Linked DNA regions of Homo sapiens: region 2 is linked to region 1. The links come from fine-mapping of genetic effects on gene expression. Tissue or cell type: whole blood. Region 1 holds a variant in brackets; the other region holds the start of a gene. All regions are shown on one strand. Distances are from middle to middle.

Evidence for each region. PIP is the estimated chance that this variant, and not a neighbour inherited with it, causes the effect.
Region 2: it holds the start of PIGK, and the variant in region 1 is fine-mapped to the expression of PIGK in whole blood (INTERVAL, PIP 0.94).

Annotation. Positions count from the first base shown.
Region 1 is chr1:77,159,466-77,167,465 of GRCh38, reverse strand. PIGK (phosphatidylinositol glycan anchor biosynthesis class K) reads left to right here. Exons shown (of 11, transcript NM_005482.3): 5 at 636-747; 6 at 3,524-3,620; 7 at 5,755-5,872; 8 at 6,061-6,171. Among named protein-coding and RNA genes, the nearest start is that of PIGK, 56 kb to the left of the region's middle. The variant C/T (reference allele first, on the strand shown) is at 3,098.
Region 2 is chr1:77,214,795-77,222,954 of GRCh38, reverse strand. It overlaps PIGK (phosphatidylinositol glycan anchor biosynthesis class K), which reads left to right and starts at 3,525. Exons shown (of 11, transcript NM_005482.3): 1 at 3,525-3,645. The coding sequence starts at 3,553. It overlaps LOC105378808 (a long non-coding RNA gene), which reads right to left and starts at 3,435. Exons shown (of 3, transcript XR_001738109.2): 1 at 3,302-3,435; 2 at 1,962-2,167. RefSeq lists an enhancer at 3,732-3,841.

The DNA.
Region 1 (8,000 bases):
AGCCAGATAAATAATTTTGCAGCTTTTTAGTAGTTTTTAAAGGCAGCACTTCACATAGCATTTAAAGTTTTAAATTCAGAACTTATTTTTCTCCAAGGTAGTTTTACTTTGCTTGTTTTTGTTTTTTGTTTTTTTCTAAGAGACATAGTCTTGCTCTCTTGCCCAGGCTGGAGTGCAGTGGTGAACTCCTGGGCTCAAATGAGCCTTCTGCCTCAGCCTTCTGAGTAGCTAGAACTACAGGAGCATGTTACCATACCTGGCTATTTTAAACATTTTTTGTGTGTGTGCATAGAAATGGGGTCTCACTATGTTGCTTAGGCTGATCTTGAACTCCTGCCCACAAGCAGTCCTCTTGCCTTGCCTCACAAAGTGCTGAGTTGATAGGCATGAGCCACCATGGCCTGCCTTCTTTGTTAGTTTTTAGTACTTTTAAAAATAGTAACAAAGTTACTTGGAGGTATATGTTTAAATGAATATATTTTAATTGAGTTATATAATTTTTGGGTGTTTTATTTTCAGTTGGTGCTGAGTAATATATGGAGAAAGAACAATGAACATTTTTGAAAGTAAAAAGTAATTTGTCAAGATTTCCCAGGTTTTATTTCATCTGATTTTTCTTGTTTTTTCCCCCTTAGGTAACTGTGGAGAATTTTTTACGGGTATTAACTGGGAGGATCCCACCTAGTACTCCTCGGTCAAAACGTCTTCTTTCTGATGACAGAAGCAATATTCTAATTTATATGACAGGTAATTTCATAATTTAGAGTTTTTATAGTAGAGTATATTGAAACTCTTTGAAAAGAAAGGCAAATGGAAAGAAATTTAAACACGTGAAATGATTTTTGGTTAAAATGGTTTCTCATGTAGTTATATTTTCCATAATGTAGAACTATTTGAGATGATATCTGAAAACAGTATAACATTTTGTGCTGTTCCTGATTTTCTTATCTCTATATTTTTTTACTATTGACTTGGTAAACTTAGCACCTTTTGCTTGGTATCCTGCTACAGCATCCTTCAGTTTTGTTCTCCTGCTAATCATCCTGTGAAAGTGTCTAATAGAAATTGCAAATCTGTCCCTCTTCTGCTTAAAACTTTATAATGGTTTTCCATCTCAAATTTTGCTGTACATGAAGATTACCAACTGTAGATACTTAGGCCTTATTTTAGAATTCTTACTTAATTTTCATCTGGGTTGGGATTCATGAAATTGCATTGTGGATATACTCCTCAGATATGAGATACAGTAGTCTTTTGATTATACTTTGAGGAATATTGGAGATAAAGTGTACCATAATATAATATAGTTATCATATGTATTACACATAATAATATATGTAATGATTTAGCTATATTATTTAGTTTGTCTTAGTTCTTAATACTTTTTCTAATTCTCTTCCAAGCTTGAATGTTCTGTCCTTCAAACATTTGTTTAAGCTCTTGCATTTGCTTATGACGTCTTTTCAGTCCACTTTGCCTGCTTGATTATTCCATATGGTTTTAGTTTTAGCTCAGGAGTCACTCCCTTCCATGACTTCCTTTCTAAGTCTAGGGTGACTGATGTTTCCAATTACCTGGGACAGTTGTAGTTTACACCTGTTGTCCCAGTGTTATTATTAATAGTTTCTGCTTTCTCCTTCAGAATTGGTATGAATAACACAGCTTACATTTTTCTTATCTAAAGATATTTCTCTTCTCCTTGGCTGGTCTGGACTTTCCTCTGTGCATGCCCATGTTAATTTTTAGTTTCTTTCATAGCATTTAACTTACTATTACTTTATTGTTTGGGTATCTGTTGCCTTCACTGTATTTTGAATTCCAAGATGTCATTGATTATATATTTCTTGCTTTTTTTTTTTTTTATCACCAGTTGCCTGTCTTGTAGTAGTATTCGGTAAATATGGATGTTAATCAAAAGATGTTCTATAAATTTTTTGGAGGGCATTCCATTCAACTGATGATAAAGCAGGTGCAGAATGATTCTTAGATATCACATGTCAACATAGTTAATGACCCCTACTTAGTGGCTTTTCTCTATCGTGTTGCATTTATTTATAACTTTCAAGGCTTAATTTATAAACTTTATAAATTAACTCAATAGAGTTAATGAAGCCAGGAAAAATTTTATTTTACTTTATCTGAAAATTACAAGGAATTTTCAAGCTTTTATGGCAAACAAGATGAAGTGCAGTTTTTTGTAGCTTAGCTTTATTTGATGTACTAAACTAAAGGATTTATTATTATTATTTTTTGTTTGTTTCCTGATTCTGTTGGAACTCTTTCAGGGTAACTGCAGGCTTGGAACAAATTCCAGTAGTTGAAGATAGGATTTGATAAACTATGGCCTGTGAACTGGCTGCCTGTTTTGGAAGTTTTATTGAAACACAGTTGCATCCATTTGGTTTACACAGTTTCTGTGACTGCTTCCATACTACCACAGCAGAGTTCAGTAGTTGTGCTAGAGACAATATGGCTCACAAGCCAAAAATATTTACTACCTGATCTTTTGTAGAAGGTTGCCAGGGTCTGTAAGAGAATAAAAACGTTGATAATTATGATAATATGATAATAATATTTATGGAGGCATAGTATACGTCAGGCAGTATTCTAAATCATTGTGGCTATTAACTCATTTCATTCTCACAGCAGTGCATTGACTTAGGTGCCGATATTCAAGGTTGCTGTATGTGGTTGTGTGGGTTGTATAGTGCACCCAAGAATCTGGCCAGGGTGTTAAGTGGGAACTGAAATCTCGTATGTGCTTACACTTACTAAGCGATCTGCCCTACCACAGGGTTGTATTCTAATGGAAGGGAGGGATACTTTTTTCTCCCACAAAGGCATAGTCAACTAACCACTTGTAAGCCTGCAGGGCTGCATGTATCCAAGAGGAAGGTGAGGAGACTAGTTTTTTTTTTCTACTTTCATGCCCAGTTGAAAGTACCTTTTAAAAACCTGTGCAAAGCAACTGTATAAGTAAGCTAATGATAGTGTTGCAGATACATTTCTCACTTTATGGCTGAGGAAACTGAAGCATAGAAATATTAAATTATTTTCCTAAACTAACATGGCATAGTTACCATTTGAATCCAGGCAA[C/T]CTGCCTCTAGATTGCATACAAATAGCACAATCTTCTGCTCCACCTCTTGTAGTAAAAATGTGGGACTAGCTAATGTCTTCAGCTTCTTTCTCATCAAAAATGTTTGCCTGGTATTTGAAACATTTTGTGAATGGAAACTCATTTCTGATATAATAATGGAGCCAGTGGAAGAGCATAAATATAGGTTTCTGTAATTGAATATTAGAAACCCTATTAAAGATATTATATCTGCTATTTTATATAGTCTATCATTCTCTTTTTAATTGGCATAGTAGAAAATTCAATTTGTTTGTTTTCATAGTATACATTTTAGAGTATAAAATAACAAGCGATGTCAAAATGTAATGAATGAAGTAAATGTATATATCTAGATATATGCAGTTTGCATTAAAAAATCTATTGATCTTTTTTACTCTTTATACAAGGGCATGGTGGAAATGGTTTCTTAAAATTTCAAGATTCTGAAGAAATTACCAACATAGAACTCGCGGATGCTTTTGAACAAATGTGGCAGAAAAGACGGTAATTAGCAAATTACTTCTTTTCATAAGCTATATTCATACCTAATTTTCACATGGTTCGTAGATTTGTAATTTTTATTTTTTAAGATTTTTAACTTATTTTGACAATTTCTTTGACTCTTTTAAATTTACATTTGTTATTTCCTCTGAACTGGGTTGTTTTTAAAAGAAAAACTGAGAGTTATTCTATAACATGAAATAGTTAACCTTTTAAGATTCCATCTCTTGTTATTTAGCATCTTTTTTAGAGGAAATAAGTGTCCCTCCAACCAAGTTAGCTATTATTATGGAGATTATGAACATCTGTTTATTTTTCAACTTGTACCTATTCTTTCTAGCTCATTCTTTGGCCCCTAATGTTATAGACGTATTTCTTCTATGGAAAAAAAAATCGCTGAAATTATGATTAGCATAAAATTTGTAACAACTCACATTAAGGATGATTGTTAGTAACCCTTGCTAAGCATCTCTTTAGTTGGAAGCTGTCATGCATATGACTGTAAGTGAAAAAACTTTTAACTTGATTACTTTCAATAAACACTTATAGGCTATCTTCCATTCCTATGGCAGAAAGTGGAATATGATGCTTATTCTGCCTTCAAAGTGTTTACAATCTAATGGAAAAGAGAAATATGTATACAATGATGCTACAAAATAAATACTGTAATGTTAAAATAAAAGCATAAGCAATGTGTGGAAGTGTTGAGGAAGCTTTTACTAGGCACTGATTATGTCTTATTCATAGCTTACAGTTATAGAATGCATACTGGGGGCTGCATACTGTATTTTACATCTATTGTCTCATTTAATTTTACAACTCTATGGGGTAGATACTATTATTATTCCCTTTTTACAAGTGAGTGAACTGAGGCACAGAAAGATTAAATAACTTGTGGAACTTTACACAGCTAGTAGTAACTTGCCAAACTTGACACAGCTAGGATTCATGCCCAAATGGTTCAGTCCTAGAGCTTGCTCTCTTGTTTACTCCACAACCTCTCCTAACTTTGGGTGTTTCTAATGCATAGGAGCCTCCACATATTTTGCCACAGAACAAATGTGTCATATTAATTGTGTCTCCTGTCACTTTCTTCGATGATACTGTGGTTCAAGATTCAATGCTTTGTTTTCTAGGTTCCATGTTAGCTGTTTACCTAGACCCAGTGTCTGAGAAAAACTTCCCAGAAAATATGTCTCCTCTCTACTTTAACTTTTGCCAGCTAGCCAGCTTATTGTGCAATGGATACCTGATTATATTATTCTTTCATTAAAACAACAACAAAAACAAAAACCTTTCATGGTTTCTCCAAACTTATAGGATAAGATCCAGACTTCATATGGTATCCTTTACAAATTGAACCTATTCTACCTTTTTGAAACCAATTTCCCTCCATTCTCCCAAATTTACTTTAAATCCTAGCTACACAGATCTGTTCCCAAGCACTTATACTTTTTTACATTATGTGCTTTTCTCTCTGCTGGAATGTCATCTTCTTTTCTCTGTAAAACAAAATAACATCCCTCATTGTCCGTATTGGGCATCACCTTTCTCTGATCTGCTTTTCTTTGCAGTTCCTCCTTAGTCCTTTCTCAGTGTTCATTCAACACTTTGATTTTGTTAGACTCTAGGCTATATGAGGGCAGGGACTATTGCATCTCCAGCATAATATCAGGCACATTGTAGGCACTCAATATATATTTATAGTACTCATCACGTTCCAATGTAGTTGTATGTTTGTCTGTGTTCCACTTAGAGTTTATGCTCTTTGAGTATAGTTACTAAGTCATACTTCTTTTTCTGAACCTAGCTCAATTTCTATGACAGCATGGGTGCCAAATAAGTGCTTGTTGAATGGAATATTCATTTAGATTCTGAATTATATGGCATAGACAAGGAAGAGGGAAAAGAGCTGGGGCAGCCACCTTGGGCACAATAAGACTCGCTGTGGTTTCCTTGGACAAATTTATACCTTTAACTTTTCTGAGGTCAAATTTCTGTTGGGAATTCTGCTGAAAACTTTTAGCTAATGAAATGACTAAGATATGATTTAAACATCTTACAAAAGTATTGTAGAAATATTAGTGTATGATTTACAGCATGATCCTTGTCAAAGATGTTATCATTTTTCTTTCAGCTACAATGAGCTACTGTTTATTATTGATACTTGCCAAGGAGCATCCATGTATGAACGATTTTATTCTCCTAACATAATGGCTCTAGCTAGTAGTCAAGTGGGAGAAGATTCACTCTCGGTATGTGCATTTTCCCCATTTGTAAACTGTGTCTTTGGAATGTGCAGCTATTTCTGAAACCAATTAAATGCTTTATGAATGTATCTGTTCTTTCTTAGACTAATACATTAGAAGGAAATTTTGGTTACATTTAAAACATTTTGTTATAATGATACTGTTAGAAATACTTTTTTTCCCCCTTTCCATAGCATCAACCTGATCCTGCAATTGGAGTCCATCTTATGGATAGATACACATTTTATGTCTTGGAATTTTTGGAAGAAATTAACCCAGCTAGCCAAACTAATATGAATGACCTTGTAAGTATTCACTTGATTTGATTATAGCACATAGGTATGCTAACCTTAATGTGAAAAGAAGTGTATTATTCCCTGCACTCCTAGAGGATCTTGTTTTATGTGTTGAATTATAGCTTTTAAAACTATTTGATATCTACCTTTTACCTGTATATTAGTATTTCTCTGTCTCTCTACAAGAGGCCTGATGTTTTCCTTTATTTACTCATTTTCTTTTCCTTACCAGAAATGTACTTTTTTTAGATTCAACTTTTGAAATTCTACATATTCTTCAGGGGCCACCTCAGATTGTGTCTCCTTCAGGAAGTCTCCCCGAATTCTTCCCTGTGGGAATTTCTTGTTTTTTTTCAGAGCCTCCATAGACCTTTATTTCTCCTTGGTAACATTTACCACAGTCTTTTATTGACCTTACTAATTGAATGTAAGTCTTTCTCACTGAATGGGAAACTCCTGGAAAAGAGAGACCTTTTCTTACATATTTTTGTGGGCCCTACAATTTATAGTATAGTCATTTGACAAGGCTTGTTGAATTTAATTTAGATTTTTTTCCTGAATTTTTTTGTGCTGATTCTTTTCATTAAATCTACTTTGAAGTTGCTGTTGAAAGTAGGCATAACAAAAAGCTTGAAACAACAATTCTAGACTGGATAATTTACTATGTGTCAATGACTTTCATTCTTTTCTCCATTAATTTATAGTCTGTTTATTCTTTCATAAATGTTTCTTGAGTGTTTGCTAAGTGCCAAGCACAGGCTGTTCCTAATGAAAGAGGCAGATGCCGTTCCTGCTTTCATGGGACTTAGAATGAAGGTGAGACTGAGTAGACAGGGCTCTGTCCTCTAGCACTTCAGCCAAGCAGCTTTGCATTGATCTCTTTAATTATATATAAATCTTTTAGGTAAATTCTCAGATTCTGAAGCCCACTGCTATAGGCTGTGAAATTTGATAGAACTACTGTATTAGTTCATTTTCATACTGCTATGAAGAAATACCTGGGCCTGGGTAATTTATAAAGAAAAAGAAGATTAATGGACTCACAGTTCCACATGGCTGAGGAGGCTTCATAATCATGGCAGAAGGTGAAGGAGGAGCAAAGGCACATCTTACATGGTGGCAGGCAAGAGAGCGTGTGCAGGGGAATTACACTTTATACAACCATCAGATCTCATGAGAACTCACTATCATGAGAATAGCATGAGAGTAACTGCCCCACATGATTAAATTACCTCCCACCAAGTCCCTCCCATGACATGTGGGAATTATGGGAGCTACAATTCAAGATGAGATTTGAGTGAGGACACAGCCAAATTATATCATTCTGCCTCTGGCCCCTCCCAGAGCTCCTATTCTCGTATTTCAAAACCAATCGTGCCTTCCCAACAGTACTCCAAAGTCTTAACTCATTTCATCATTAACTCAAAGTCCACAGTCCAAAGTCTCATCTGAGACAAGACAAGTCCCTTCTGCCTGTGAGCCTGCAAAATCAAAAGCAAGTTAGTTACTTCCTAGATACAATGGGGGTACAGGCATTGGGTAAATACACCTGTTCCACTTGGGAGAAATTGGCCAAAACGAAGGCACTACAGGCCCCATGTAGAAATCCAATAGGGCAGTCATTAAACCTTAAAGTTCCAAAATGATCTCCTTTGACTCCATGTCTCACATCCAGGTCACATATGAAAGACGTGGGCTCCCATGTCCTTGGGCAGCTTTGCCCTTGTGGCTTTGCAGGATACGGCCCCCATCCTGTTTGCTTTTACGGGCTGGCATTGAGAGTCTGTGGCTTTTCCAGGTACACAGTGGAAGCTGTCAGTGGATCTACCATTCTGGGA
Region 2 (8,160 bases), 55 kb before region 1:
ATTTTGCCCCTGCCCTAGTTATCTGTGGAACTTTGAACTTTAGAGAGATGATTTAGGGTACCTGAGGGAAGAAATTTCTAAGTGGCAAAGCGTTCAAGAGGAAGCAGAGCATAAAAGGAAAACTTGCAGCCTGATGACGTGATAGAAAAGAAAAACCCATTTTTTGCGGAGAAATTCAAGCCTGCTGCAGAAATTTGCATAAGTAACAAGAAGCCACATGTTAATTACCACGACAATGGGAAAAATGTCTCCAGGGCATGTAAGAGGTCTTCCTGGAAGTCCCTCTCATCACAAGCCAGGAGGCCAAGGAGGAAAAATGGGTTTATGGGCTGGGCCCAGGGCCTTGCTGCTTTGTGCAGTCTCAGGCTGCTCACATGTGATATTGGGACTGTGGGTGCACGGAAGTCAAGAATTGAGGTTTGGGAACCCTGCCTAGATTTCAGAGGATGTATGGAAACACCCGGATGTTCAGGCAGAGGTGTGCTGCAGGGGCAGGGCCCTCATGCACGACCTCTGCTAAGGCAGAAGGGCAATGCAGAAGGGAAATGTGGGGTGGGATCCCCCACACAGAGTCCCCACTGGGGCAGTGCCTAGTGGAGCTGTGAGAAGAGGGCCACCATCCTCCAGACCCCAGGATGGTAGATCCACCAACAGCTTGCAGCATATGCCTGGGAAAGCCAGAGACACTCAATGCCAGCCTGTTAAAGCAGCTGGGAAGGAGGCTGTATCTTGCAAAGCCACAGGGGCAGAGCTGCCCAAGACCATGGCAACCTACCTCTTGTATCAACGTGAACTGGATGTGAGACACGGAGTCAAAGCAGATCATTTTGGAGCTTTAAGATTTGACTGCCCTGCTGGATTTTGGACTTGCATGGGCCCTGTAGTCCCTTCATTTTGGCCTATTTCTCCCATTTGGAATGGGTGTATTTACCCAATGCTTGTACCCCCATTGTATTTAGGAAGTAACTTAACTTGCTTATGATTTTACAAGCTCATAGGCAGAAGGGACTTGCCTTGTCTCAGATGAGACTTTGGACTGTAGACTTTTGAGTTAATGCTGAAATGAGTTAAGACTTTGGGGGACTGCTGGTAAGGCATGATTGCTTTTGAAATGTGAGGACAGGAGATTTTGGAGGGGCCAGGGTGGAATGATATGGTTTGGCTGTGTCCCAACCCAAATCTCATCTTGAATTGTAGCTCCCATAATCCCCAAGTGTCAAGGGAGGGACCTGATGGGAAGTAATTTAATTATGGGATCAGTTACCCTCATGTTGTCATGGTAGTGAGTTCTCACGAGCTCTGATGGTTTTATTTATCTATCTATTTATTTATTTTTATTTTATTTCATTTTATTTTTTGAGACAAAGTCTGGCTCTGTTGCCCAGGCTGGAGTACAGTAGCGTGATCTTGGCTCACTGCAACCTCTGCCTCCCAGGTTCAAGCGATTCTCCTGCCTCAGCCTCCCTAGTAGCTGGTATTACAGGCATGTGCCCCCACACTGAGCTAATTTTGAAACATGGGGTTTTGCCATGTTGGCCAGGCTGGTCTTGAATGCCTGACCTCAGATGATCTGCCTGCCTCGGCCTCCCAAAGTGCTAGGATTACAGGTGTGAGCCACTGCACCTGGCCTCTGATGGTTTTATAAAGGGTAGTTCCTCTGCACATGCTCTCTCACCTGCTGCCATGTAAGATGTGCCTTTGCTCCTTCTTCATCTTCTACCATGATTGTGAGGCTTCCCCAGCCATGTGGAACTGTGAGTCCACTAAGCCTTTTTCTTTAGAAATTATGCAGTCTTGGGTATTTCTTCATAGCAGTATGAAAATGGGTTAATACAAGTAAAGTCTCATCAAAGTGTGGGTATGAAGTTACATCTGGTCATGAATTTGAGGCATAATCATTAATCTTGTCAGACATTATCTTATGTACAGGAAGAGGCAAGGGCTAGGATCACCAAACTTACCTTTTGTAAAAATTCAGTGATTCAGGCAAGAGATGTGCAAACCTATTCCCTATCCTGCTTATGGTCTTCAAGGCATTCTTCCACAAGGCTGCTCACAGTCAATGAGTCAGGGGCTTTGTGAAATATTGCTGGCAAAGGAGCAGAATGAGCAAATGGCTTCTTATCTTTGCTACTTTGTTTCATAATCATCAGCATCCAATAGATATCTGTTGAATTAATGAATACATGGAAGATATTCTGGCAGTGTATTTACTTTCTAGGATTCACGTAACGGAAAACCTAAATTTGACTAAATAGCATGAAACCTCTCACAAAGTGCAATAGCAAAAGAAACAAATAAAAGGAAAAGAGAGACAAGAGAATGGGAAAAGCAATAGCATAAAATATGGCAAAGGCTAATGTTACTTATTTATAAATATATTATTCAAATTCATATGCAAAACATAAATATATAAACAAAGAATTTACATCAGAGGACACAGAGATAGTTTAGAAACACAAGAAAGACATCAGATCTTGATAGTAACCAAAGAATTATAAGTATAGTTACCTAGGGGTAACATTTCATACCAAAGAATTTAAAGGAAAAAAAATGGTATGGTTTGGTGTTGTGTATTCTGATAGTGCTGTAAGCTTGTTCATTTTGGAAAGCAACATCATTTATAGTTATTAAAATGTTTTGGAATATTTTGACCCCAAATTCCTAGTTCAGGAAAATTATACAAACAAAATAATTCAACAGATTTAAAAAGCCAAACACACAAAAGATACTCTTTACAATATTATTTTCATAGTAAAACTTAAAAACTTTGCATTGTGCAGCAGAGGGACAATTACTTTGGCTGAGGCATCAATAATGGATGGAATTTTATCTCACCATTAAATGTTAAAATTGTGAGGAAGCAGCGTGGAAACGTTTATGTCATACTAGATGAAATGCATAAATTAAAACTGAACTCACATAATAAAGAGAATGGTGGACCATACATATACACCAGCTGTGTCTCTTCCAGATAGGCTTTAGTTCCATAATTACAGAAGATACTCAAGAAACAAAAACGTAACTAGCTTCCCATGTTAATCCTTTCACCAGGTAGTAGACCCCAAGCCTCTAAATTGCAGCGCCCACCCACATTTTCCATTTATAGTTTATCCAATTAATCATCTTTTTGTGCCAAAACGCTTGTTCTTCCCACCACATCCAGCTTCATATTTTCAAAGAATTGGCAGCACTCGGCAAAATAAATAAATAAATAAATAAATAAATAAATAAAATAAATAAGGGAACAGAGAAATAAGTTTTTAAAGTTTAAGGAGTTACGGGTTTTCCCTCCACTCACCTTTCAATTTTTTTTCTTAAATGTTATACCTATTTTACAACCTCCAAACTGAAAATGCAGTTAAAAATAAAAAGGTCAATATCCTGCGTCTACCTTGTCCCGGACTCTCGAGCTCCACAAAACCGCAGAGTTCTAAAGCCGGACCAGAGGGCCACCTCGAAGAGGCGCGGATGGTGTCGCAAAAACCCGCAGCGCTACTTTACGGCACTGCCTCCGCCCCTTCAGGTGCGGGAAGTCTGAAGCCGGTAAACATGGCCGTCACCGACAGCCTCAGCCGGGCTGCGACTGTCTTGGCAACTGTGTTGCTCTTGTCCTTCGGCAGCGTGGCCGCTAGTCATATCGAGGTAGGAGTCAGGCTCATTTGACCACAGCCGGGAGGCCGGCTGTGAGCCCTCCAGCAGATGTCCGATACACAGTAGCTGAGGGACGCCTCCTGGAGTCAATCAGCCCCTGACCCAGGCTGGGTTTGAGGAGGGTATCACTGGGCACGGGTTAGGACACTGTTGGTCTGTTTCAGCGTTTTAAAACGATGAATTGAAATAATCAAACCCTCGGAGACAGAGGAGGACCTGATCCTTTGCTCCTACATGTGTGCAGTTCTTAGGTGAAATACGAGCAAGAGGCTCGTGAAATGTCAGTGTGCAGCAACTGCTTTCCTACTACTCAACTGCAGCCCTCTGTTTTGATAGGAGTCAGACGGAACTGGAGAGATGAGGGCAATTTTAAGAATCCAGATAATAGAATTTAGTGATAATTAGAACATGGGATAAATATAAGTGTTTATTAAAACTCTCAAGTTTCTGGCTTAGGGGCAACACGTCTGGGTTAAGAAATGGAAGAGAAAAGGGGTGCTTAGTTTTATCCTGGGCTCCTCCAGCTTCCCATTTTTAAACGTGGACACAGGATGTTCTGGTGCTCTATAATGCTTTTACTATTCACCATACTCTGATGATTCCTCAGTCCCGGTCTACAATCTAGATGTCTGGTATCTTTTTCAGGCCTGCATATCCAGCTGACTAAGAATCCGGGATAGTCAGGAGACATTTGAAAATCCGTGTGCAAAGTTTTATCTTCTGCTTATCCTACCTCCTCTTAAAAAGACACTGAAAAACTAAGCACCCCTTTTCTCCTCCATTTCTCAACCAGATGTGCTGCTCCTAAGCTAGAAACCTGAGAGTCTTAATCTCTTTATCCCATATTCTAATTATCACTAAATTTTGTGATCTGAGTTCTTAAAATTGCCCTCACCTCTCCAGTTCCACTGACTTAATTCAGGCTGTGATCACTTCTTGTCTAGACTCTTGCGATTACTTTATCTTGTTTTCCATAGGCCTCCATACTCCCTGAGTTTGGTGCTAGATTCGTCTACACGAAATGTAAGCCTGATCAGGTTATTCTTCTGATGAAATCTTTTAAATATTTATTAATTGCATACAGAATAAAGTCTAAACGTTATGACCTGGTGCTTGCCTACTTTTCCAGTGTTCCATATTGGAACCTCTTCTCCCCACCACCTGGGCACCTTGAGCTTAGACCAGTGGACTCCAAACTTTTTGAATACACACCCTATCAGTTAAAAAAAGATATTGAGCATGAACTTCATATATATTTATGAATTACTGTTAATTTATATATTTGATGTTTATATAGCATAATTTTTAGAGAACATAAATATGAGTAAATAGAAGTTCTGTTTCCCTCCTTTATTCTAACTTTGACTGCTTCATCTTGGATACTATTACTGTTTTTTGTAGTTACATAATTGCTGTGCTTTTTCACATTACAATATTTTATACATTGTGTTTCCTCTGTTCATGTGCTAAGATACAGTAAAGGCATAACCTCTGTAGAACGTTTCCCTATCTCTTACCTTTGCCTTTACTCTTGTAATTTGTACACTTGATACAGCACTCATTTACTATAACCCGTGTATGGTTTGTACTGTTATTCCATCATATCTCACTTAGAGATAGGAGCAACAGTTTCCTAAATGTTTTGCCTTGAGTCGTTGTTTTTTCCTTTCAATCTGTTCTCCAAATTGAAGCCAGAGTAACTTTTAAAAATGCAGTTCCAATCATGTCACCCAGGGACCTTGATGTTGCTCAAAAGATCACCTTAATGTTGCTCTAAACTCTCCACCATGACCCACAAACAAAAACCCTGCATATTTTTTGGGCCCTGACTACACTTCAAATTTTTTCTTTCTCTTTCAAACTTCTAGTTAGGCTAACTTTCTTTCAGTTTCTCAAAACCTTTAAGCTTTTTCTCACATTAGAGCTGTCTCCCCTCTGTCTGGAATTGTATTTCCTCTTTTCTTCATCTTTTGGATTTTAACCCAACAGTCACTTCTTTAGGAAAACTTTCCTGACCAGGTCAGGTCCCTCTGTTGTACTCTTATTATATTGTGTGTCTTTCCTTATCTGTTAAATGTATATCTATCCAATTAGATAGTAACCTATTTGAAGGCAGTACTATGGCTATTTTTGCCCAGCATTGTATTTGGAGCACTCAGGGCAGTGACTGGCATGTTGCCCAATGAGTGTGATGAATTAATGAATGTAATAATTATAGTGTAATGTGTTTGCATGCTCCTCTTTATTGAACTCTGGATTCTTGAGAGAAAGCAGCATGCTTTTTAGTGATTTTTGTATCACTATATATTAATGGTATCTGGCACATAATAGGTGCTGCATTTACTGTATGTAGAATGAATAACTTTATAATGACTGTATTGTCTAGACAACCACAAAAAAGTTTTGCCATCTAAATTTTTTCACTAAGGTCTGAAAGAAGTAAGAACTTTGGAGGTGGAAGGCACATTAGAGACATGAGGATAGTCAAGTCTAAAGAGCTAAATGACTTACCGCAATTTCACAGCCAGTTGCGAGATAGGACCTAAATTTTAGCTTAGGTCTTTGAATTCCCAAATCAATGCTTAACCACTGTAGCACATTGCTTTCTTTAACATCCAGGCAGCTGTTGAGTTTGGAGGGGGAAAAATACACACACACACACCCCCCCACACACACATGCCACACACACACTTTTTGTTCAGGTTATTATTCTATATTTATCATGTCAATTTATCAGAAACAATGCTTAACAATAGACAACCCATTATAGTTTCATTTAATGTGAAATACTATGTTATTGCCTTGCTAAATTAAGGGTATTTTATCCTAGCCATAGTAATTTCAGAGATCAGTTTTTTCCATCTCTATTGGTAGTTAACGTAAGAATTAACTTGTATTACTACAGCAAATGATATTCTAATGAAAATTGATATTCTTGAGGGTTACATGTACACTCTAAAATCTGTTAATGATATTTCACAAATCTCCAGAAATAGATACTTTACTTTCTGACCAATGTTGTATTCTCTTTAAGCGATGCCTCTCTTTTTGTAATATGTATATTTTAATTGGCACAATAATTGTGCATATTTATGGGGTATATAGTGTGATATTTTCAGACATATTCAATATGAAATGATCAAATCAGAGTAATCAGCATATCTGTCACCTCAAAACTTTATCATTTCTTTGTGTTGATAATATTCAAAATGTTAGAAAAGATTTCTAGGTAGTTGAGAAAATATAATAAATTATTGTTTACTATAGTTACTCTAAAGTGCTATAGAAGGCTAGAACTTATTCCTGCTATCTGTAATTTTGTATCTGTTAACGAATGTCTCTCTGTACTCCCCCCGTCACCTTCCTATTCTTCCCAGCCTCTATTCTACTCTATTTCCATGAGATCAAGTTTTTAAAAATGTCCGTATCTGGGTGATATTGAAATTAAAAAATTTAAATTTCTGTGCCTGACTTATTTCACTTAATGTAATTTCCTCCAGGTTCATCCACGTACCTGTTTATGAAAGGATTTTATTCTTTTTATGGATGAATAATACTCCATTTTATATATACACGTGTGTGCACGCACACACACACATTTGCTTTATCCATTCATCTACTGATAGACACTCAGGTTGATGCTATATCTTGGTTATTGTGAATAGTGCTGCAATAAATATGGAGTGTAGATATCTCTTTGGCCTACTGGTTTCCTTTCCTTTGAATATATGCCCAGTAGTGGAATTGCTGGATCATATGGTAGTTTTATTTTGAGTGTTTTGAGGAGCTTCCATACTGTTCACTATAGTGGCTATACTAATTTACATTCCCACCAGCAGTGTATAAGAATTCCCAATTCCCTTTTGTCTACATCTTAACTAGCATTTGTTATTTTTTTGTCTTTTTGATAATAGGCACTAAGATGATATCTCATTGTGGTTTTGGTTTGCATATCCTTGGTGATTAGTGATATTGAGCATTTTTTCATACACTTGTGGGCCATTTGTATGTCTTTTGAGAAATATCTATTCAGATCCTTTGCTCGTTTTTAATTAGATTATTTGGTTTTTTTTGCTGTTAGCATAAGTTTGAGTTCCTTGTATATTTTGGATGTTAATCCCTTATTGGATGAATAGTTTGCAAATATTTCAGGATTGCTTTTCTATTTCTGTGAAGAATATCATTGGTATTTTGATAGAGATTGCATTGAACTGTAGATCACTTTAGGTGATGTGGTCATTTTAACAATACAGTATTTATTCTTCCAATTCAATGCATGGAAGCATTTTCATCTTTTTGTGTTCTCTTCATTTTCCATCAATATTTTGTAGTTTTCATTGTAGAGATTTTTCACTTCTTGGTTAAATTTATTCCTAGGTGTTTAATTTTTCTGTAGTTATTGTAAGTGGGATTGCATTCCTGATTTTTCTTCAACTAGTTCATTATTGGTATATAGAAACGCCATTGATTTTTGTCTATTGATTTTTGAGTCTTGCAACTTTACTG